6 linked regions of the Homo sapiens genome follow. The protein of the gene in region 4 purifies or fractionates together with the protein of the main gene of each other region. This does not show direct contact. Each region holds a gene or a part of one and is shown on either strand. Other genes may lie near its edges. The genes, in order: RSU1, DHX36, RGS10, ACP6, ALDH1L1 and LACTB2.

The links.
Region 1: the proteins of ACP6 (region 4) and RSU1 purify together in Homo sapiens (affinity purification with mass spectrometry, with the first as the bait; one large-scale study listed by BioGRID). This does not show direct contact.
Region 2: the proteins of ACP6 (region 4) and DHX36 purify together in Homo sapiens (affinity purification with mass spectrometry, with the first as the bait; one large-scale study listed by BioGRID). This does not show direct contact.
Region 3: the proteins of ACP6 (region 4) and RGS10 purify together in Homo sapiens (affinity purification with mass spectrometry, with the first as the bait; one large-scale study listed by BioGRID). This does not show direct contact.
Region 5: the proteins of ACP6 (region 4) and ALDH1L1 purify together in Homo sapiens (co-immunoprecipitation; one large-scale study listed by IntAct). This does not show direct contact.
Region 6: the proteins of ACP6 (region 4) and LACTB2 purify together in Homo sapiens (co-immunoprecipitation; one large-scale study listed by IntAct). This does not show direct contact.

Annotation. Positions count from the first base shown.
Region 1 is NC_000010.11:16,688,299-16,692,103, reverse strand, and holds part of RSU1 (ras suppressor protein 1), read left to right. Parts: intron 1-3,805. UniProt on the Homo sapiens protein: Potentially plays a role in the Ras signal transduction pathway. Capable of suppressing v-Ras transformation in vitro.
Region 2 is NC_000003.12:154,303,988-154,307,792, forward strand, and holds part of DHX36 (ATP-dependent DNA/RNA helicase DHX36), read right to left. Parts: intron 2,309-3,805; coding exon 2,229-2,308; intron 1,182-2,228; coding exon 1,107-1,181; intron 986-1,106; coding exon 819-985; intron 1-818.
Region 3 is NC_000010.11:119,525,643-119,529,447, forward strand, and holds part of RGS10 (regulator of G-protein signaling 10), read right to left. Parts: intron 1,783-3,805; coding exon 1,664-1,782; intron 477-1,663; coding exon 390-476; intron 1-389. UniProt on the Homo sapiens protein: Regulates G protein-coupled receptor signaling cascades, including signaling downstream of the muscarinic acetylcholine receptor CHRM2.
Region 4 is NC_000001.11:147,650,025-147,653,829, reverse strand, and holds part of ACP6 (lysophosphatidic acid phosphatase type 6), read left to right. Parts: intron 1-1,182; exon of another isoform or gene 1,183-1,238; intron 1,239-1,280; coding exon 1,281-1,381; intron 1,382-3,591; coding exon 3,592-3,687; intron 3,688-3,805. UniProt on the Homo sapiens protein: Hydrolyzes lysophosphatidic acid (LPA) containing a medium length fatty acid chain to the corresponding monoacylglycerol.
Region 5 is NC_000003.12:126,105,329-126,107,891, reverse strand, and holds part of ALDH1L1 (cytosolic 10-formyltetrahydrofolate dehydrogenase), read left to right. Parts: exon of another isoform or gene 1-645; coding exon 646-751; exon of another isoform or gene 752-1,966; coding exon 1,967-2,166; exon of another isoform or gene 2,167-2,359; intron 2,360-2,563. UniProt on the Homo sapiens protein: Cytosolic 10-formyltetrahydrofolate dehydrogenase that catalyzes the NADP(+)-dependent conversion of 10-formyltetrahydrofolate to tetrahydrofolate and carbon dioxide.
Region 6 is NC_000008.11:70,662,568-70,666,372, forward strand, and holds part of LACTB2 (endoribonuclease LACTB2), read right to left. Parts: intron 713-3,805; exon of another isoform or gene 1-712.

The sequences.
Region 1 (3,805 bases), on a different chromosome or scaffold from region 4:
TGGATTACCTTTTATGCAGTTAAGTCAACATTAAAAAGTTTCAGTAGGCTGGGTGCGGTGGCTCACGCCTATGATCCCAGCACTTTGGGGTGAATTGTGGGGTGATTCACCATGAGGAGGGTGAATCACTTGAGGCCAGGAGTTCAAGACCAGCCTTTCCAACATGGTGAAACCCCATTTCTACTCAAAATACAAAAATTAGCCGAGTGTGGTGGTGGGTGCCTGTAATCCCAGCTACTTGGGAGGCTGAGGCAGGAGAATCGCTTGAACCTGAGAGGTGGAGGTTGCAGTGAGTTGAGATAGATGGCGCCACTGCACTCCAGCCTGGGTGACATAGTGAAACTGTGTTTCAAACAAAAAAAAAAAAAAAAAAAAAAAAAAGAAGCAGCAGCTTCAGTAAGCACCGGAGAGCCATTGCCTCCTTTCCACGGGGACCAGCTGGTTCCATAACAGCTGCTTTTAGGGGCATCTACATGATGCTCTGCTGGGAGGTCACAAGGTACATGAGCTATGCTAGGGCAGGGGCCTGCTGTGAGTTCTCTTCTGTCCTCCTTGGGAAGGAGAAGAAGGTTGGTTACTTTGTGTATTTCAGTTTTTTTGTCCTTCTGTCATTCTCCTGTAGCAGCTGTCGTCACCCCTTTGTCAAACATACTAGCCCAAAATATGGACTGTTAGCTGATAAGACAATAAGTCAAACTCTTAATCATTAAAAAAAAAAAAAAAACTGCACAAAAATGCCGCTATTGTGTTTCACCAGATTAACACAAACTGATTTTCAAAATTAAGGGCCTCCTTTATATGAATAGATCTGTATTATATTAAGTATATCCTCATACAATTAGAACCCAACTCAACTCTTTGTGTGAAGCAGCCATTTCATAATTAGGGGATTTTTAGTATCCTATCTGAAAAATATTATGCGAATTAGCAGGTATTTGGCTACTTTTTAAAAACGTTTTACATGTGGCAGCCTTCAGGGGAGGCAGTTTATTCATGATACTCATAGTTTTTTTAAAAAAGCAAATTTCACATTCATTGCCTTAGTTTTTGATCTTCTAGTCTAAAACTTATTATAGTTCCTAATTTTCACTTCTTTGTCTCTGTTGTTTAAGCCGCATACTTCCCCTTTATTAAAAAGAATCCTTACTTATATATTTATCAGTGTCTGTGTGTTGCGGATGTGTATTTGTCTATCTTTAAACTACCATGAAAACATACTTTTGGTTTTGGCACTTAAAACGCCTATGAACCTCCTCCTCCTTCCCCCACCCCAACCGCTTTTTTCTAACCAGTTAACCCATTACCTAAATGAGAGGAATAAAGAACTAAAAAACTTACCGGAATGTTTTCTTTTCATTCATGTCTATGATCGGCGTTCACAGTGACCTTCCTCAGAGCACGTCCTCAAGTTCTTCTGAGTCTAGGGCAGAGAGGATGGATGATCTGATTTATAGGCTCTAATGGACTCCAAGAGGAGACATGGATACTTGAAAGAAAACAATGAATTCAGTGTGTCAACAGAATTAAAATACTTGGAGATGACTTAGCTTCATGAAGATGGGAACTTGTTCCATTAAGCAGGAGGGGTGTGGCTGGTAGGATGGTGAGGTATAGTTCTTCAGAGATTGCTCTTTGGAGTAACATTCTGGGCATTAATCACGGCCCCTTCATCATGTCTCAGGTGGAAGCTGCTGTCTCTTCATCTTTCGTGCCTTCCACAGGGGAACTTGTTGGCTGATGTCACTGAGTTGCCGGTTAACATGAAATTATGAGCTTGGTTGGGTCGTTGAAGCTTACATCCTACATGCTCCACTGTGTTTTTAAACTGTCGCTGAGTTATACAATTACCTGTTAACTCTTTATTTGATGGTGGTTGTCTCTTCGACCTCTTTTATTTCTTTGAAGCAGAATTATGATGGAATACTCATCACTTAAGTTTCCAGAAGGTAGATTTTTTTCCCCCAGGAGAGGCAGTCAAGTTGAAGTCAGCACCCTTGACAAGATTCTTTGTGAAAGGGGGTAACTCACACTTTGCACATTTCCATCAAGGAACGTGGATACCAACTGCAAGCCATTTTAAAAGCTGACAAGTTAACTCTTGTCAACAAGTTAACAAAAGAGGTTTGACAAATGTTAGGCTGGAAATGCTTCCCTTGAAAGAGGTATTTGGCAAACAGGCGTCATCATGAAAACTGCAATTTGCCAAGCATGGCAGTCCTAAAGCCTCATTTCCAGCATGGCATCACTCACAGGATGCTTCCTCGTCATTCTGCCTGTCTTTTTCACCTTTCTTTTCTCTCTCCGGAAAAGTTCCCCACTCATTTGTGTTTTGTGTGTTCCGTTTTTTTAACCTTAAATGAAAGACCAGCCATACTATTATTCATATTAGTTAACAAAAACATTTTAACAAAGCAGTCTTTGGTGAATGGTGGGAAACCATGAGATAAAAGCTGAGAATTCCTCTTTATTAGAAATCTAGCCAAATAAATCATCCTGTTTGATTTATAAGGAAACATTCTTTTGGCTGTTGGTTATTGTTTTTCACATTGTTTTACTTGTGGAATTAAAGCTAATTAATGTTTTATTTTTCTTCTGCATGCTGTGCAAACCTGTTACAAGCTGTAATGGACGTACATGGGCTTTATTAAACAACTACTATATCCTCTAGTGACTGCTGAGTCAGTGGCCTAGAAATTCTTTAAATAACTTCACTGATACAACCAGTCCACCACAAGGCTAGGGCATTTCAAACCTAATAGGTGAGCCCATTCATTTTAAAACAGCCCTTCACTGTAGGAAATTATCTCTAAGAAAAACTTAATAAACATCTGATGAAGTATAAATGGGTGCACAGAGCTAGCAGGTGATTTTATAAATATCTTCACAAAGATGGAGGAGAGGGTTAAATTTCCAGGATCTTTCTAGTGGTTAGTAAATTGAACATAGTGACAATCAGTATGTAGAACAATGTAGACTCTTCTTTTTCATTGCTGTATCTGAAAATAGCTCAAATTAAGCCACAGAAAAACAATTTCTGTGTAGTAGACATGAAAATGAAGAACTGTTTTTCTTTAAAGCTTTTTTTTTTTTTCCTTAGGGACACAGTATCACTTTGTCACCCAGGCTGCAGTGCAGGGGCACCATGATAGCTCACTGCAGCCTTGATCTCCAGGGCTCAAGCAATCCCCCTGCCTCAGCTTCCCTAGTACCTGGGACTACAGGCACACACCACAACGCCTGGCTAGTTTTCTATTTTATTTTTTTGTGGAGACTGGGGGTCTTGCTATGTTGCCCAAGCTACTCTCAAACCCCTGGCCTCAAGAGATTTTCCTGCCTCAGCCTTTCAAAGCGCTGAGATTACAGGCACGCACCACGGCACCTGGCTTTTAACATAAAGGTAGTTTTTACATTTTACAAGTTGACTATGTATTCTCTTCCTGGTGATATATATTTTCTTCATAAATGGTACATATTTGTATTATTTTTTCTTTTTTTGAGACGGAGTCTCGCTCTGTCGCCGAAGCTGGACTGCAGTGGCGTGATCTGGGCTCACTGCAAGCTCCGCCTTCCGGGTTCACGCCATTCTCCTGCCTCAGCCTCCCGAGTGGCTGGGACTGCAGGCGCTCGCTACCACATCTGGCTGATTTTTTGTATTTTTTTTAGTAGAGACAGGGTTTCGCCTTGTTGGCCAGGATGGTCTTGATCTCCTGACCTCGTGACCCGTCCGCCTCGGCCTCCCAAAGTGCTGGGATTACAGGCCTGAGCCACCACTACTGGCCTATATTTTCTTTTTTAAAGTTGAAAA
Region 2 (3,805 bases), on a different chromosome or scaffold from region 4:
CTAAGTAGGTATCACTGCTCTACCCATGATGTGCACACATTTGAGCAAAGTACTCAATGTTAGTTCTAGAAGTCTCATTTAAAAATAACAATAATAACACCTACCCCAACTAATCTTACATGGTTTTCAGTATTAACTGGGATGTATTTTAAAGGACTTTTAAAAAGCTGATGACAAGAACATTTATTAAACATAAATATATTACATTGTAATTCCCTCCCTTTCCCCCTCCTTCCTTCACAAGTATAAGCAGGAAAGACAGTGAGGATTAATTTTAAAAGAATGTGCTTTTGCAGCTGGTCCAATCTAGCTTCAGCTTGGGAAACCTACTTAACTGCTCTGAGGCTGCTTTCTCATCTGTAAAAATGTGAATGATAATAGCAACTACCTCATAAAGTGTTATAAAGACTAAGGAAGACAAAGTGGCAAATATACTACCTGGAACATTGAAGGTGTTCCATAAGTGGTCACTAGCAGTATTAGCAGCAAACTGCCACCCTAACCTGTGATAAAAGCCACAGAAAAACAACAGAAAGAAGTTTATAAAATTATGCAAATCTGTGGTTTGACTTCAATGATGCCATCTTAATTGTGTGGTGGTAGCAACAAGAAGCTACCTGTCCTCACTATGAGAGATGATGCCACCATTTAAAAATAGACCCAATTGTCTAATCCATGAAACTGGAGGGTAGAATAATATTAAAATAAAATTAACAGCTAAACATTCATTTTGACTACTCTTTACCTAGTACCATATTAATTTTTTTAATTGTTTTTCTAGTACCTTTTCTAATGTAATAACTATACATTTTACTCACCAAAATATTCTGAAAACTTTTCTGCATTCAATGTTGCACTCATCAATATTACTTTCAAGTCAGATCGAAAATTGAGAAGGTCTTTAACAACAGTCATTAAAACATCTGACTGCAGATTTCTTTCATGGATTTCATCAAGTACGATATGACTAACACTGGACAAATACCTAAGGCAGAAGTGTGAAGTACAAAATTTTAAAACCATTTTTCTTTAACAACTAGTAAAATCCAATTTAATAATTACATCTTTTGATAACACTTATATTTCCTTAATTGAAACATACTCACGGGTCTGACTGGAGCCACTGAAGGATGATTCCTGTTGTACAGTATAAGATAGAACCCTGTTTCCTTGGCAACCGACTGTGAATGAAAGACATGAATTAATAAGCCTTGGTTTTCTCTTCTAATAATTAACTACCACAAAGGTTTATATCTTCAATTTTAGAAATGCTTTCAGTTTTAATGAAAATCTTCACACTTAATTTTTTACTTATAAGAACACCTACCACAATGGGGTAATGGGAAATACTTCAAGTTCATTATACATTATCTTTGTTGTCATTGATATAATGTTAATTTCTTTTAAAAGATACGACCATTCACATTCAGACAACAACTGAATTACTTATGGGGCCTAAATATTTGGTTCGTAATTGGAAAGCTCATTTGAAAAGGCAAATGTGTCAGGCATGGTGGCTCAGGCTTGTAATCCCAACACTTTGAGGCCAAGATGGGAGGGTTGCTTGAGCCCAGGAGCTCAAGACCAGCCTGGGCAACACAGCGAGATCCAGGCTCGAAAAGTAAAAAAATTAGCCAGTTGTGGTGGTGTCCGCCGGTAGGCCCAGCTACTTGAGAGGCTGAGGTGGGAGGACTGCTTGAGCACAGGAGTCTTCGGCTGCAGTGAGTTGACTGCACCACTGCACTTCAGCCAGAGCAACAGAGTGAGAACCTATCTCTAAAAAACATTAAGTAAATTAAAACATAAAAAGGCAAATGGAGTCCTAAGCTCCAGAAAAGGACCAACTATGTACTGCACAGTGGAGTTGGATAGGGGGTTAAGATATCAAAATCAATAAAAAGTCAGTCGGAAGTATATGGAGGTGGTACTGAAAGGTCTACACAATCTTTTCAGAGAGAGTAATGGTCTACTAATCTATGTCCAGGAAAAATGTTTATTTTTCTAATCATTCCAAATATAAAAGCATCATTTAAAAAAGGCAATACAAGTCTGATGTGGGGTTAAAAGATAAATTTGTGGCAGCAAGTCATCTACGCTGCAGTTACTTTAAATGGTAATTGTAATAGTAATAACCATCATAAAAATGGGGAAAATATCCTTTCTTTTGAATCTCCAGCTTCAAAGTTTCACTAAAATCTGCCTGTATATAAGAAGTGAACATTTCTTACCTCTGGAGACGAATTTGATATCCAGTACTATTACCACTGCCACAAGATTCTGCCCTTTCTGCAGCTACTCTTTCCGCAACCTTTAATTCAAATAAAACATAAAGAGAATATAATTTCCTTTAGAACAAATATCCTGAATGTCCATGAAAATCTAGGACTGTTGAAAAATTGTTCTTCAGATTTCTAAATGAGTTAAAAAAATAGATATTAAAATCTGAGGTATCTAAAACAGTGTGTGCCTCTCTTAAGAGCTGTTTATTTTTCATTTCCTCTTATAAAGTCTTTTAAGGCCAAGTTCTCTCATCACTAGTTTCAAAGTGCCTTTCTATAGCATCCTCTCATTAATTTATACTTTTCTGGTCTTTTCTAAGAGTTGTAAATCAAGATCTAAACTTGTAGAAGTTATGTGTAATTTGAAAGTAATTACATATTGATACTCTTCCCTTGTGTTTTTGTTTGTGGTAGGGACTGGTGTTGAATTTCTAGTTCTTGGTCATGTTTTGAAAGTTATGACTGCCAAAAATAAGATTTGGAAAGATGAAATGTTATAATCTAATACTGATTTGTACAACTAAAAGTAACCAACAGTTATTCTGTGACAGAACAGTGATAATAAGGTATTAGAAATAGAAAATGGCATAATTTGTAAGAAATAATACTTTACAAGTAAAACTTTCCAATAAGTATATCTAGTATACACTGACAGACCACATTAACCTGTCTACTCAAATTCCAACAGATGGTGGAAAAAAGAAGAGAAAAATTACCTACTTAGCATTTCTTCCTACTATCAGCATATACAGTAACTGCTATATATTAGTGAAAATATTTAAGTCTAGCTACAAAAGTGTGTTATGACAAAAGTGGTTTATTTTTCACCATTCTGTAATTTTATGCAATTTCCTGGAATATAGTCCCCATAAAAGGGTGAAGACTACCTGAAACTGAAACTACTAGAAGAAAACCTAGGGAAAAACTCCTTTGGACATTGGTCTAGGCAAAGAATTTATGACTAAGACCTCAAAAGCACAGGCGACAAAAATAAAAATAGACAAATGGGAATTAACTAAGAAGTTTCTACACAACAAAAGAAATAATCAACAGAGTAAACAGATAATTTCCAGAACGGAAGAAAATATGTGCAAACTATTCATCCAGCAGTGGACAAATACCCAGTATATACAAGAAACTCAAACAACAACAATAAAAGACAAATCATCCCCTTAAAAGGAGGGCAAAAGACAAGAACAGACATTTTTCAAAAGAAGATATACAAATGACTAACAGGTATATGAAAAATGCACAACATCACTAATCATCAGAGAAATGCAAATTAAAACCACAATGAGATATCATCTTACCCCAGTCAAAATGGCTACTATTAAAGAGTCAAAAAATAATAGATCTTGGCCAGGACATGGATAAAAGAGAACTCTTACATACTGTTGGTAGGAATGCAAATTAGCACAGCCTCTATAGAAAACAGTATGGAGATTGCTCAAAGAACTAAAAATAGAGCTATCATTTGATCCAGCAATCCCACTGCTGGGTTTCTACCCAAAGGAAAAGAAATCAAT
Region 3 (3,805 bases), on a different chromosome or scaffold from region 4:
ACAATCCCTCTGATGCACCTTGTGCTTTTATCATTACACATCTGCGTATCGTTTTACCACGTCCAAAATGCTAACATGTCAAAATGTGGGGAAAACATCCTCATAACTTATTCATGAAGAAAAAAATTCTATGCAATGAGGAACTCTAAGTGACATAAATTGTTATTTTTATTTTAAATATTGGTCCATTTGAACAGCTCCATTTAAAAATGGATTAACTCACCCTTTTAAAAATGATTAATATTTGATCAACACAAGATACCTAATCTGAAGCTTAAATCTTCCCCCAAAACTAATATGAATCAGGTTTCTTTAGGCAACTTCAGAATCTATTGGAAAGGCAGTTGTAACTTTATAAGGGAAAAAAATTATCAGAGTGGAGGAAATACCTGCGTCTTATCTTGCATTTTCTTAAAATCTTCACATGCTAGCCAAAACAAAACATTTTCTTCACTGAATTCCTTTTTTAAAAATTCCTGTGGATACAAAGAAAAAGAGTCACACAGTATTCTACTTTAAAAAAAAAATAAAACAAATGGCATTTCCCTTCAAAGACTGATTTGGCAAAATTCAACAGAGGAGCATGGTTCAGTTACTCTTCGAAAACCCCACTCTGAAAAACAAATGAGTATGTTTAATGTTAAAGCTATAATTTCATATGCATTTGACCTTAATGGTTTTGACATTGTAAAGAAGAGTACAAATGAAGCAGGAATGTACTCATATTTCTAAGCTGACAATAAATTACCAAAAAGTAAATTAAAGTGGAAGATATATTGGTTCCTTCCAGACAGTGTTTAAACAAAGTACATTCCTCTAAAATCAGGCTGTTTTTTAAACAAAAGAAAAGAAAGCACATTAAGTATGTCTAAAGACACCATGATACAAACTATTTTAAGTTGGAGGTATGTGTGTTTTCTTATGGCCGATCTTGGGCAGTCCATGGCACAGCCAGCTACTCTGCTGTGCAGAGACCTCCTGAGTTGCAAACACTGCTCACAGTGGCCTGGCGACCAGGAACTAGAAGCCTAGTACCACCTGCCACTCCCTCCCTGGGAGCTCCAACAGGCACCAACTGCATGAGGACTCATCCTATTCCTGACCCAAGACTTAAAGACAGAAGTAACCAGGACTCATTCTTGAAATTCACATATGGTCCTCCATCTGGCACCGGGGGCTTCTGCTGGTCAGAAAAGCTATTTCTAGATGGGATCAACAGTTCCCCATCCATCAGCCCTGCTCTCGGAGGTCCCTTCGCCAAGTTCTCATTGCCAGCCTCTCTTACTCTGTCAACAATGCATTCTGAGAATCCCCCAAGCACGAGAGAACAAGCCTTCACGTCAGAGAGACCCAGAGCTGGGAATTCCTCATACAGACTCCACCAATAGGCACGGTATCTTCTCTCTCCTCCCACCCTGTACCCCTCCCACCTCACTACACAAAAACCAGAAACAGGCTACCCATCTGTGACAGCGTTGCCAACACAGTCATGACAGATGAGAAAGTCTCACCCTCAAGCTGGGATAGACAGTACTGAACTCTCAAGCTGGCATAGAGAGTGCTACGCTGACAGACAATGTTGAACTGGCCTATTTCTCCCCTGTGTGCATCTGAACTTCTGCACACACTGCATCCATCCCGATTAACAATGAAAAAGACAAACCCTAAATCTTTTCACGCCTTCTGGGTCTTCCAGCAGATTCTCCAGGGATGCCGCCCATTTGGCTGTGCTCTTGAGGCTCTGGTGGCTGCTGCTGGAACTGCCATCGCTGTCGTGGATGTCTGCAAAGCAAAGTTCAGACTGCATATGTGGCCAACAGACACTGTCATTTTAAGAAATCTGCATGCAATGGTCAGCACTGCCGTCACCATCACGGCTGACATACACCGACTTATGCGTCAGGCTCTGTTCTAGGTGCTTAACATGATGGACTCATTCTTGTCACACAACCCTGTAAGGCAGGCACTACTATTTCCTCCATTTTACAGATGGGGGTAAACTGAGGCTCGGAGGGATGAAGGGACCTGCTGTTTCCCACCAAATCCTTCCCCTACTCTTGTGTCCACTGGCCAATTCAGAGGCAGCCCTCAAGTCACACTCAAACCCTCCTCCAAGAGAACCTTGATTCAACAGCAACTGCTTCCCCATGGCGCTTTGTGCACAGACTTAGAATTATGGTGCTGTGTTGTGACTATTTACATGACTGACTCCCACTAGTCTGAAGGCTCCTATGTGTCCTCATCTTGTATCTCCAGCACCTAGCTCATTATCTGGCACAGAGATTAAAAAACTCATTGCAGGACGGGACCCACGTGATGGCGCAAAATGTCAGAGGGTTGCCAGAATACCCAGGCATCAAGATAAATGTCATTTCAGGCAATAGCTCTTTTTGTTTGTTTGTTTGTTTTTGACAGAGTCACTCTGTTTCCCAGTCTGGAGTGCAGTAGCACAGTCTCGGCTCACTGCAACCTCTGCCTCCTAGATTCAAGCGATTCTCCTGCCTCAGCCTCCCAAGTAGCTGAGATTATAGGTGATTCCCACCGCACCCAGCTAATTTTTGTATTCTTAATAGAGACGGGGTTTTACCATGTTGGCCAGGCTGGTCTCGAACTCTTGACCTCAGGTGATCCACCCACCTCGGCCTCCCAAAGTGCTGGGATTACATGCATGAGCCACCGCGCCCAGTTCCTCAGGCAATACTTTTTCAAAAAATCAAAATTTATGCTAAAAAATCCATGATGAACAAAATACCCAAATTTTAAATAAAGACAGGATCGGTTATGCTGATTTTTCCTTTTGCTTCAGAGTCCAATATGGCTCAGCATCACACTGTTATTTTTCCTGACTTTATTTAAACTTCGGATATTTGTTCATTACGGATGTTTCTGCATTAATTTTGATCTTTTAAAACACTGCATTAAATATCATTTATAGGCTGGGTGCAGTGGCTCACACTTGTAATCCCAGCACTTTGGGAGGCCAAGGCAGGCAGATCACCAGAGGTCAGGAGTGAAACCTCATCTCTACTAAAAATATAAAAATTAGTTGGGTGTGGTGGCATGCACCTGTAATCCCAGCTCCTTGAGAGGCTGAGGCAGGAGAAACGCTTGAACCCAGGAAGCGGAGGTTGCAGTGAGCCAAGATCACACCACTGCACTCCAGCCTGGGCGACAGAGCAAGATTCCATCTAAAAATAATGATAATAAATAAATAAATAAATAAATAAATAAATATCATTATCCTGATGCCTGAGGTTTTTGGCAACCCTCTTACATTTTGGTGCACAGAGAAAATGGATGAAAACTCTTTGCATCTGCACATCTTCCACTGTACTCTCTGACTCACGACACTGAGAAGTCTCCTGGGAGGAACAGGGAATCTCCAAATAACACACTTTGGCCACTTGCCTGTAGGAGGAGGGAACAATTAAAGCATGCTTCATTCTATGGCATGTGATCCCTTCCTGGAGTCAAGGAAGAACCATGGAATGTCACTTCAGATGGGGCCAGGTTCAAAACCCAGTTTCTGGCCGGGCACGGTGGCTCACGCCTGTAATCCTAGCACTTTAGGGGGCTGAGGCGGGTGGATCACTTGAGGTCAGGAGTTCAAGACCAGCTTGGCCAACATGGTGAAACCCCGTCTGTACTAAAAATAAAAAAAAGTAGCTGGGTGTGGTGGTGGGTGCCTGTAGTCCCAGCTACTTGGGAGGCTGAGGCAGGGGAATCATTTGAACCTGGGAGGCGGAGGTTGCAGTGAGCCAAGATCGTGCCACTGCACTCTAGTCTGGGTGACAAGAGCGAAACT
Region 4 (3,805 bases):
ATATTAAAAAAATCTGAGATGCCCTTCATAAAGAAAGCTGGTTAATCTTTAAATCTGTTTTCCTTAAGCTTATTTAGCCATAGGATCTTTTTTTCTGTAATAAATACATAAAGAAGACTAACAATGGGAAAGGTTTCTCTAGATTTAAAAGTTGGACATCCAAAGTTATATAGGATCCTCCCCACTCTTGTGAAAATAAAATGACTGTGTACCCTAAAGGCAGAAATGCACCTTGCTTTTATGTGTAAAATAGGTTTAAGGTTAGAAGGCAAGAGTTCATATCATGTATTTGTATGGCGTATTTTTTAGACTTCATTTTGGGAAAATGAAGATCAAGTAGGAATTTATGAATTCCTTGCTTTGTATTTTATTCATCTTTTTTTTTTAAGTTAAAAAATACAGGCCAGGCATGGCGGCTCATGCCTATAATCCCAGCACTTTGGGAGGCTGAGGTGGGAGGATCACAAGGTCAGGAGTTCGAGACCAGCCTGGCCAATATGGAGAAATCCTGTCTCTACTAAAAATACAAAATTTAGCCGGGTGTGGTGGTGCATGTCTGTAGTCCCAGCCACTCAGGAGGCTGAGGCAGAATACTTGCTTGAACCTGGGAGGCAGGGGTTGCAGTGAGCCGAGATCACGCCACTGCATTCCAACCTGGGTGACAGGGCAAGACTCCATCTCAAAAAAAAAAACCAGTAAAACAGGCCGGGCGCGGTGGCTCACACCTGTAATCCCAGCAATTTGGGAGGCCGAGAAGGGTGGATCACGAGGTCAGGAGATTGAGACCATCCTGGCTAACACGGTGAAACCCCGTCTCTACTAAAAATACAAAAAAATTAGCCGGGCGTGGTGGCGGGCACCTGTAGTCCCAGCTACTCAGGAGGCTGAGACAGGAAAATGGCGTGAACCCAGGAGGTGGAGCTTGCAGTGAGCCGAGATCGTGCCACTGCACTCCAGCCTGGGCGACAGAGCGGGACTCCGTCTCAAAAAAACCAAAAAAACAACAAAAATGCTTTTCATTTTTGAGTGGATGGGGAGTCATCAGAAAGGGAAGAAACCCTTTCTTTTTTTTTTTTCCTGGCCTTCAGGTATCTAGTAATAGCTTTGGAAGAGCTTTAGAGACATAGCTTCTTGACCTGTTAACAGACATAGCTGTTCTTGAGCCTGTCTTCTCTTCCCCAGGAGAAGATGGGCTCCTGCAGGTTCCATGGAAGCTGATCAGCTGCCAGAATCAGTAGGTAAGAAGCATTTTTTTCTAAAACTACATGTGGCCCTTTCAGGCACACAACCTCCCAAGCTGCCCCATGCTGAAGAGATTTGCAAGGATGATCGAACAGAGAGCTGTGGACACATCCTTGTACATACTGCCCAAGGAAGACAGGTGAGGGGCTCTCACTGCTGGCATGAAGTCACGCTTGGTCAGACATCCAAGTGTATGGGGAAGAGGAGTTCATCAGGCCCACTCACACCTGACAGCTGATGTCTCCTCGTGTAAGGAGGCTGAACCCCATTCTGCCCACCTACCAGTAGGCCCTAGGTCCTCGCACTTCTACAGCTGGGACTGGTGGCCTAGTGCTTCTGTTCCCTGTTATGCAGAACCAGGAGCCACCACCCTCATGACTTTATCACTTGCCTTTTCCTTTTGCTTTAAGGTTTAAAGGATTTGGGTGGGGGGAGCTGAAGAAAGAATATTCATTTCTGTCTTTAGTCATCATGTTACAATTTGCAAACCATTTTCACATTCTCACTGTGAGGTGAGAGAGATACCTTTCTCCCTGGCTTTATAGATAAAGAAACTGAGGCTGGGAGATATTGCCTACCTGGTCTAGGCCCAGCTAGCAAGTGATGGAGCCAGAACTTGGACCCAGATCCACTGACTGCCTATTCTGTGTTTTCGCTATATTACTAGCAGTTAGGGTTCTGTTTCCTGACTACCAGAATGGAAAGTTTTTCTCTCACCAAATTTCAGAAGACACCTTTTTTTCTGATTTGTTGAGAGCATTCAACTTGCACTAAAAATAGGTGACTTGATAGAGGAGGGGAGGTAGGAAGTAGCCCTGGGAAAGATGAGTAGGGGGGAAAGGCATCTAACAGTTCAAGAATTTGCACGGTTGGGTGCCCAAGGATAAGAGCCCCTGACTGCATTCCTTCCACTCAGGGTCAGTGTGTCCACTTCTGTGCAAGCCTAGGGCATCTAGAAGGTTCCTGCCAAGCCACACAGCTTGCTGCCACTCCCTGGGACTTGCCAGCTTCCCTTTTCTGCTTGTGAAGGGGTGCCACCATACCTAAATTGTTACTTACTTCCCTCTCCTTTATCAACACACACACACATATTTAGTAAATATTTTAAGCTGTCAGGATCATGCAATTTCTGTTACAACTACTCATCTCTGCCCTTGTAACATGAAGCAACCAAAGACAATATGCAAACAAATAGACATGGCTGTGTGCCAGTAAAATTTGTTTACCAAAACTGGTCAGATTTGGCCTATGGTATAGTTTGCTTTATTCTGGTGTAAATCATTTTAAACAGGACCTTGTCTATTCCATTCCAATTAGCCCTGGTTTTGTAAAACTAACATTTCTTCAAGGACAAATGGTTACAACCTCACAAGGCCATCCAACTTGGCTTTGCCTGTATACATTCTTCTGAAAAGTATGTGTTGCATACAGTGTTGGTTGCCTGCTCTTCATCCATTGCTGCAACATTCCTTGACTTATAAAGATGGTCATTTACCCAATCACCACAAATAAGGATTTGTCTAAGCCAATCATGGCAACCTTGTTTTCATTTGTCAGTGGCTGGGTTCTGGGAATTCTAGGAGGGGTGTTTTTTTCTCTTTGATAAAAAGTGAGAAGCACAAAAACAAGGAGAAGACCAGTCTCTGAAGTCTCCATGGAAGCTGATCAGCTGCTAGGATGAGTAGATGAGAAACATTTCTTTCTTCTATAGTAAGTGGACTTTGTTCACTACTGTGAGTGAACATGCTTTAAGCTGCAGTAGTCACCTGTGGCCATGATGTGACAGGCCTGAGAATGAAAGTGGTGGAGCCACACAGCCAAGCCTGGGAGCACGACCACTGAACTTCTTCTGTAAAATAAATAAGACATAAATAAGAAATGTCTTTATGGCCCAAACTCCAAAAGAAGGAAGGCTGGCACATAGGAAACAAAATTAAGGATGTTCTTGTTCCTTCTGATTATTTTTCTAAGGGCCTTCTAGAATTCCTGGAAATTATTACCCCTTCTTCTTCCCAGCTTGTCAGCTTTGTTCTTTGATTCCCCAAGGCCTAGTTGGTCACGGCTTATCCAGGTTACCACTCTCCTGCTCCCTCAGCCCCTCCCATCTCAGTTGTGTTCACAACAGGTCTGTGTGCTGGTGCCTGTGTTGTTGGGAGTCTTCATTCACAGAGGACCCCAAGACCGGACTCGGTGCCATTTCTCTCCTTCTGGCCCGTTGCTGGCCCTTATGCATTACTTGCCTTTTTCTCAGCTCTGTCTGGACTCATGAGGTCCTGGGGGCAGAATCAGTCTGTGTCCCCTGAATGCTGAGTGCCCTCTAGGTGCTTAAATGTTGTTCACTTTTCACAGGGAAAGTCTTCAGATGGCAGTAGGCCCATTCCTCCACATCCTAGAGAGCAACCTGCTGAAAGCCATGGACTCTGCCACTGCCCCCGACAAGATCAGGTACCTGGCACAGCAACTCTGCTTTGTGCAGCTAAGGGCCGTGGGAACTTCTGGCTGTAGGGAGGGAACCCAAATCTTAGTGAGGCAAGAACCAGGCTGTCAGTGACCGAAGGTAGAT
Region 5 (2,563 bases), on a different chromosome or scaffold from region 4:
CTCTGTCTCTAGAGAAAACAGAGAGGAAGCATTTCAGTTGTCAGAAGTGCTTCTGCCCTGGCAACCAGGGCCTGTAGGGGCTGCATCCAGGGTTGGGAGTAGGTGGTCCCTTCTTGACTGGAGAGCATGGAGCTGGGCCTTGGTAGGGACCCTGGGAGGGCAGAGGGAGGAAGCCCCAGGAGGTCCCAGTGCCCAGAGCTCCTCCCCTCTCACCTCCTCCTACTCCACGGGTTGTAGCCACCAGGGTCAGTGGCAGAGCTGCCTGGGAGGTTTCACCTGCCAAAGAATCTAGGTGGTTTTAGATTAGCTGTCACCAGAAAAGCTCAAGTCTTTGCTTCGGCCATGGGTTCTGGCACTAGGATTGGATGGACTTGGGATCAGGTCTCAGCTCTGTCACCTGCCAACCGGCGGCCCCATTTCCCTCAACAGCACTCCGTTAAAAGCACGGTGAGACCCACATCAAAGAACAAGCCAGGTGGGAGAGCCATCTGCAGCGTGGTGACACCCATCACACGGGTGCCGTGACCCGGTGCTTATGTCGGGTCATCCGCAGGTGGCTGGTGTGGCCCAGGCCCTGCTGACGGAGAGGCTGGACCATCGGGCACCGTGTCTCCCATGTGCAACGGGCTTTTATCTCTCTTGCAGGGTTCTTCTTTGAGCCAACTGTTTTCACAGACGTGGAAGACCACATGTTCATAGCCAAGGAGGAGTCCTTCGGGCCTGTCATGATCATCTCTCGGTTTGCTGATGGGTAGGGAATCCTGCTGATGTCTCAAGGGCCCTGACTCTCTCCCACGTGTTACTGGGGTCTTCATGTGGGCTTTGGGAGGTAGTCTACGGGCAGTCAGGAGGAGAACTCAGGCAGGGCGCAAGCCGTGGACACCCCGCTTGTGCCGCCTGCTGAGTCTCCACACCCCTGAGAAGAGAGCCCAGTGACCTGGGGCTTTGAGTCCCCCCTGTGAGCAAAGGCAGCTCCCTTCCCTGTCCTTGTCACTTGTCACATGCTCCAGCATGTTTCTCACAGCCCGCTGGGCTCTGTTCTAAGGTCTGTTACCATGCATTAAACCACCCCCCACACTGAGTGGCTTGGAATAATCAGAGATTTATTTTAGTCACGGTCTAGGTTCAATGAGGCAAACCCATCTCTGCTCCATGCAGTGTCTGGCCTCAGCTGGGGTGACAGAGTGGCTATCCTGATGCTGCTGGGGGTCTTGCGGGAGGCTTCCTCCGCGTGGCAGCCTCGGGGTTGCCGAGGCACCTGGTTCCCTTCGGAGGCCAGGTGGAAGCCAAAAGGCTCTTTATAATCTAGCTCTTTAGAATCCCAGAGCATCCCTTCCACCACGGCCTGTTGATGAAGCAAGTCACCCAGACCAGGCTGGGCTGGAAGGGAAAAACTGTACTCCACTCACAGTGGGGCCACTGAGGCCCATGCTGTCACTTCTCAGGCCTGCCCCTTGTCTCCGTAGCACCTTGGAGCAAATTGCAAAATCGTGCCTCGTCCTCACATTTTACTATCCAACTACCAAAAAAACCCCAGAAATTATCATCGTATGTCAGTGGTATTAGAATAAGAGACTTCACTGCCACCTAGCCAATAAATATGGTTGTAGTAAGTCTCCAAATCGCTGATGTCTGGTGAATGCCCAACCTGCGGCGGGCACATGTGGGTCCTTCTGCATGTGAGGACCCAGCGGCCCCTCTCTGGGCCCCTGCTCCCAGTCTGTGGAATAAAGGGCTCACCCGATGATCCAGGAGCCCCTGTGGTGGCCACCTGCCCATGGGCCTCTGCCCTTCCTCCTCGCTCGCAGCCCAACCCAACCCAATCTTGCCCCCGGCGCTGCAGCCCGGCACATTTTCTCCTCGGAAGGTCTTATGCAGCTGGGGTGTGGAGTGGGCCGGGGTGTGGAGTGGGCCAGGCTCTCCTCTGCACCTCCCTCAGGGAGTTCTTCCTGGACTTTCTCTCCAGGGACTTGGATGCCGTGCTGTCTCGGGCCAATGCCACGGAATTTGGCCTGGCTTCTGGTGTCTTCACCAGGGACATCAACAAGGCCCTGTATGTCAGTGACAAGCTCCAGGCAGGCACTGTGTTTGTCAACACGTACAACAAGACCGACGTGGCCGCTCCCTTCGGAGGATTCAAACAGTCTGGATTTGGCAAAGATCTAGGTAACCTACTCCTGCCTGTGGGGTTGCTTTCATTTATTCATTCAACAAACATCTGTTCAAAACCACTTAGGGCCAGGTCCTATCTCAGATGCAGGGACGTAGCCTTGAACATGATGGCTGTCAGGGTTCGCTTCTTACTGGGAGGGAACTTGTGACAAGTCCGTGAGCAAGATGCTTGCAGAGGGGGGTCGTGCTGGGAAGAAGGCAAGAAGAGGGGCCTGGAGGAGACACTCCAGCCAGGAGGCACTGGGGGCCTCTCTGGTGTGGTGGCACCTGTGCTACCCAGACCTGCATAGCAGGGAGGAGTTGGCCATGAAGACCCAGGGGCCCGTGTTTCTGGCTGAGGGTTCAGCAGGTCCTTGGGGGAACCAGCTTTGGTCGTGGAGCTGCAGAGAGG
Region 6 (3,805 bases), on a different chromosome or scaffold from region 4:
TTGCTTGTGGTTCTGAATCTTCCTTATATTTTGTTTGCCCTTCCTCACGATTTTATGAGGTGGCCTTTCTCTGTGAAGTTTTGCTGAACTAAAGACATGGGGGTGACATGTTCCTCAAGATCCAATTCTTTTTTTTTTGAGACAGGGTCTTGCTCTGTCACCCAGGCTGGAGTGCAGTGTTGCGATCTCAGCTCATTGCAGCCTTGACCTCCTGGGCACAAGCGATTCTCCCACATCTACTTCCTGAGTAGCTGGGACTACAGGTATGTGCCACCATGCCCGGCTCATTTTTGTATTTTTTGTAGAGATGGTGTTTCGTCATATTGCCCAGGCTGGTCTCTTAACTCCTGGGGTCAAGCAATCCTCCCACCTCAGCCTCCCAAAGTGCTGGGATTACAGGCGTTGAGCCACCATGCCCAGCTCAAGATCCAATTCACAAACTTCTTCACTCATACTGTTTCACAGTAACACCTCAATAATTCAGGCTGGCTGACAGATTAGCCTTGATGAAAAGTCTGAGTTATTCATTAATTGATCAATAACTGTTTATGGATTACCTAATATGTGCTACAAATTTGTTTCTTGCAGTAAGCAGGACACAACAACCCTGCTTACATTCAACTGTTGGTGAGAAGGGGAACTGCATATGACTGGAAATAAACAATAAAAGTAACATACCATAGAAAGCATTTTGCAAAGCATTAAAATTAAACAGTGAGTAACTGGATGGTTATTTTTTATTGGTTTGTTTCCCTAACCCTACTCCCTGAGACCCAGAGCCAACAAAAACAAACTGGCCTCTCATAAGGGAGGAGGGTAATGGCCTCATAGCCCATTGGCTTCTATCTGCACCCTATGTTCTGTAGCACAGTAGATGTCCTTCAGAAACACAGTGTTGAACTGTCCTATCCGGAGACAGGAGACCAGATGGTTACACTGGACCAAGAGGGCATTTATTATAGGGTTCTGTTGGTAGTGGAAATGTAAGGAAGAGATGGCTTTAAGAACATTTAGAAGGTACAATCAACCAACCACCAGGATATTTGTTAAACAACGAGATGTGGAAGGAGGGAAACAGTTGGCGACTCTGAGGTTTCTAGGTGGGAGGATTGGTGTGCCATTAATCAAGAAGGTAAACCCTGGAGGGAGCAAATTTGAGATGAGTTTGACTCGGGTCAGAGTGAGTTCTGATGCTATTCCTAGCCATCTTATCTTGCTTTTTTTCCATAGCAATTATTACCATGTAATATATTATGTATTTACATATTTATTTTTTTATTGCCTATTTCCACAACCAACACCACCGTACAAATTTGAGTCCCTTCAGGGCAGAAAGCTTGTCTGTTTGGTTCAAGGAATTTATGGATTTATTTCTATATCCATAATACATTGTACTGCACTTAGCATTGTGCATATTTAGTTATGCTAAATTAAAATACACAAGACTATAATACTATGATACCTCCAATAATACTCTCTAGCCCACCCATCCTAGATTTTGGCTGCCTCCATGCATTTGCAGTTATTTACCACAAATTCTCACTGCCCCTAACGTAGAGTCACTGGGACTATTTTTGTGGGTCTTCTGGTCCTCACAAAAAGAATACTTCCATGCTTCAGGTAAGGCTCAAATTTTTTCAATCCATCAAGGCCCCACCACTTTTAAAATTATTTCTTAATCCTTGCCTTCCCGTCCTCCCAAGAAACTCTGTTTTGAAATATCTCCTAATCTAAAAATGAATATAAATTTCTGTAATTTAATGACCAGATCACATCACACTGATCAAAAGTCATGACAAAATTAACAGGGTTGATACATGAATTTGATAAAATCTAGTAGCAAAGAAAACAGATCTTTTAGAATGCCTGTGCTGGTTGTTTGCAGGTGAAAGTGTGAGTGACCATACGACTGTGGTAGTGGAGAACATGTTTCTGGGGCTCCAGTTTTAGGTCTCTTAATGGTCCTGTCTTGGTTTAACAAAATTGGAATTGATAAAAGAAGGGCTCTCAAAAGAAAGAAAACAGAAAAAAGTTCTGGAATTAATACAATCTATTCAGAACAAAGGAGGGGTGTCTAGATACTATAAAACCTAAAACATGAGTTTGCACCAAGCTTTGAGGGAAAAAAAAAGTCACACTGATAACATATGACATTGACATAGCAATTTAAACCATTTGGGGCTTTCATATTTACTATTTCTTTTGATCCTCATATCAACTCTAGGGAGGTATTATTACTTTATTAATTATTTATTTTATAGAAAACTTATCTTCAGAAAGGCTAAGTGATTTGCTCCAGGTCATATAACCAGCAAGAGGCAGTGCTAGGAAGCACTAGATGTTCAGATACAAGGTCCAGTGACTTCTCCATTCAAAACACTGCCTCTCTAGCAGAAGGGGATTGCTTAGGTTAAGTGCTTAGAATCATTATGTGGCAAAAATAAAACTTCAGCTATACATTTGAAAAAACTGTTATCAGTTTTGAAATTGAAAAAAATGTTATCAGTTTCTCCCTTAGCAAACAGTTACTCTATCAGTGATGTCTGTAAATAGTTATAATAGATGATTGGATAGTATCATCTCTACATGGGCTAGTTGACTTTGTTCTTCTTGGCCACAGATAATAATATCCCTATCTCAGGAGGTCATTTTGCAAATGCAAATTATGCTAATGAAGGGCTCAAGGGAAGAGTATGGATGAATCTGTATAGGTCTATGAACGATTTATTCACTAGAGCAAAGTGCCTGGCACATAGTAGGCACACAATAACTGTTTGCTACATGAATGGAGAAAAAAATTTTTAATTGATGGAAAATTAGTAGAATCAAATTCCTTGTTATAGGTATTTCATGTCAATATTAAGATAGCTATTAACTGGTCTCTATTTGCTGTCACTCTTATAAAATCATTAGATATTTTCTGAACACCTACTATGAGCACAGTGTTATCTAGATGTTATGAGGAAAGCAGAAGTGATAAACATAATGGCTAACATGGTATGTTTTCCACGTGCTAGAACTTGTTAAGTGCTTTTCATATACGTTTTTTCACTTAAATTTCACTGAGCCCTTATAAAATCCAATGAGGTAGGTACTACACAACCTTCATTGGGTTGTATCAGGAATCTGAAGCTTAGAACTGTCTTGTCCAAAGTCATATGGCTAGTAAATGGCACCAGGATTCTAATCGAGGTAACCAGAGTCCAGAGTTTTAATTCTATTCCACTTGACTACCTTTTTCTATTATCAGCCACACTGTCTGCCCACAAAGTATGTACAATTTTGATAGGAAAGGTTAAAATTGCAGTTTTTAAAGGTTCTTGAGCAGAGGAGGAAAGTAAAAACACTGGACAATTTGGCTGTCATTTGTTGATTCAAATGCTTATTGAGTACCTATGTACTAAGCATCACAGTTAGGTCTAGCAGTGTTTTAGTGAAATTCATTTGGCTTCCATGGGCTGATCAGATGAGGAAGGAAGACCAGCTAAAACTGTAGTTATCCAGCAGTTCTGGAGTCATAATAGTGAAAATTAAGAGAAAATGTACAGAATGCTCATTCATTCAGCAACTGTTTACTGTTCTACCTGAACTGTGTACAAGGCTCTGTGCTAGGTGCTGGGGATATAGCCATGAATATGCTTTCACTGAACTGATGTTATAGTGGGGTATGAAGGTGTGGAAAGACACTAAGCTTCTTGCACAAAAAAATCATTTCATTATCATTGAGATAAGGACCATGAAAAGTATGGAGTGTCCCTAATACAGTCTGATGGGTCAGGGAAGACTTCCATGAGGAAATGGTATT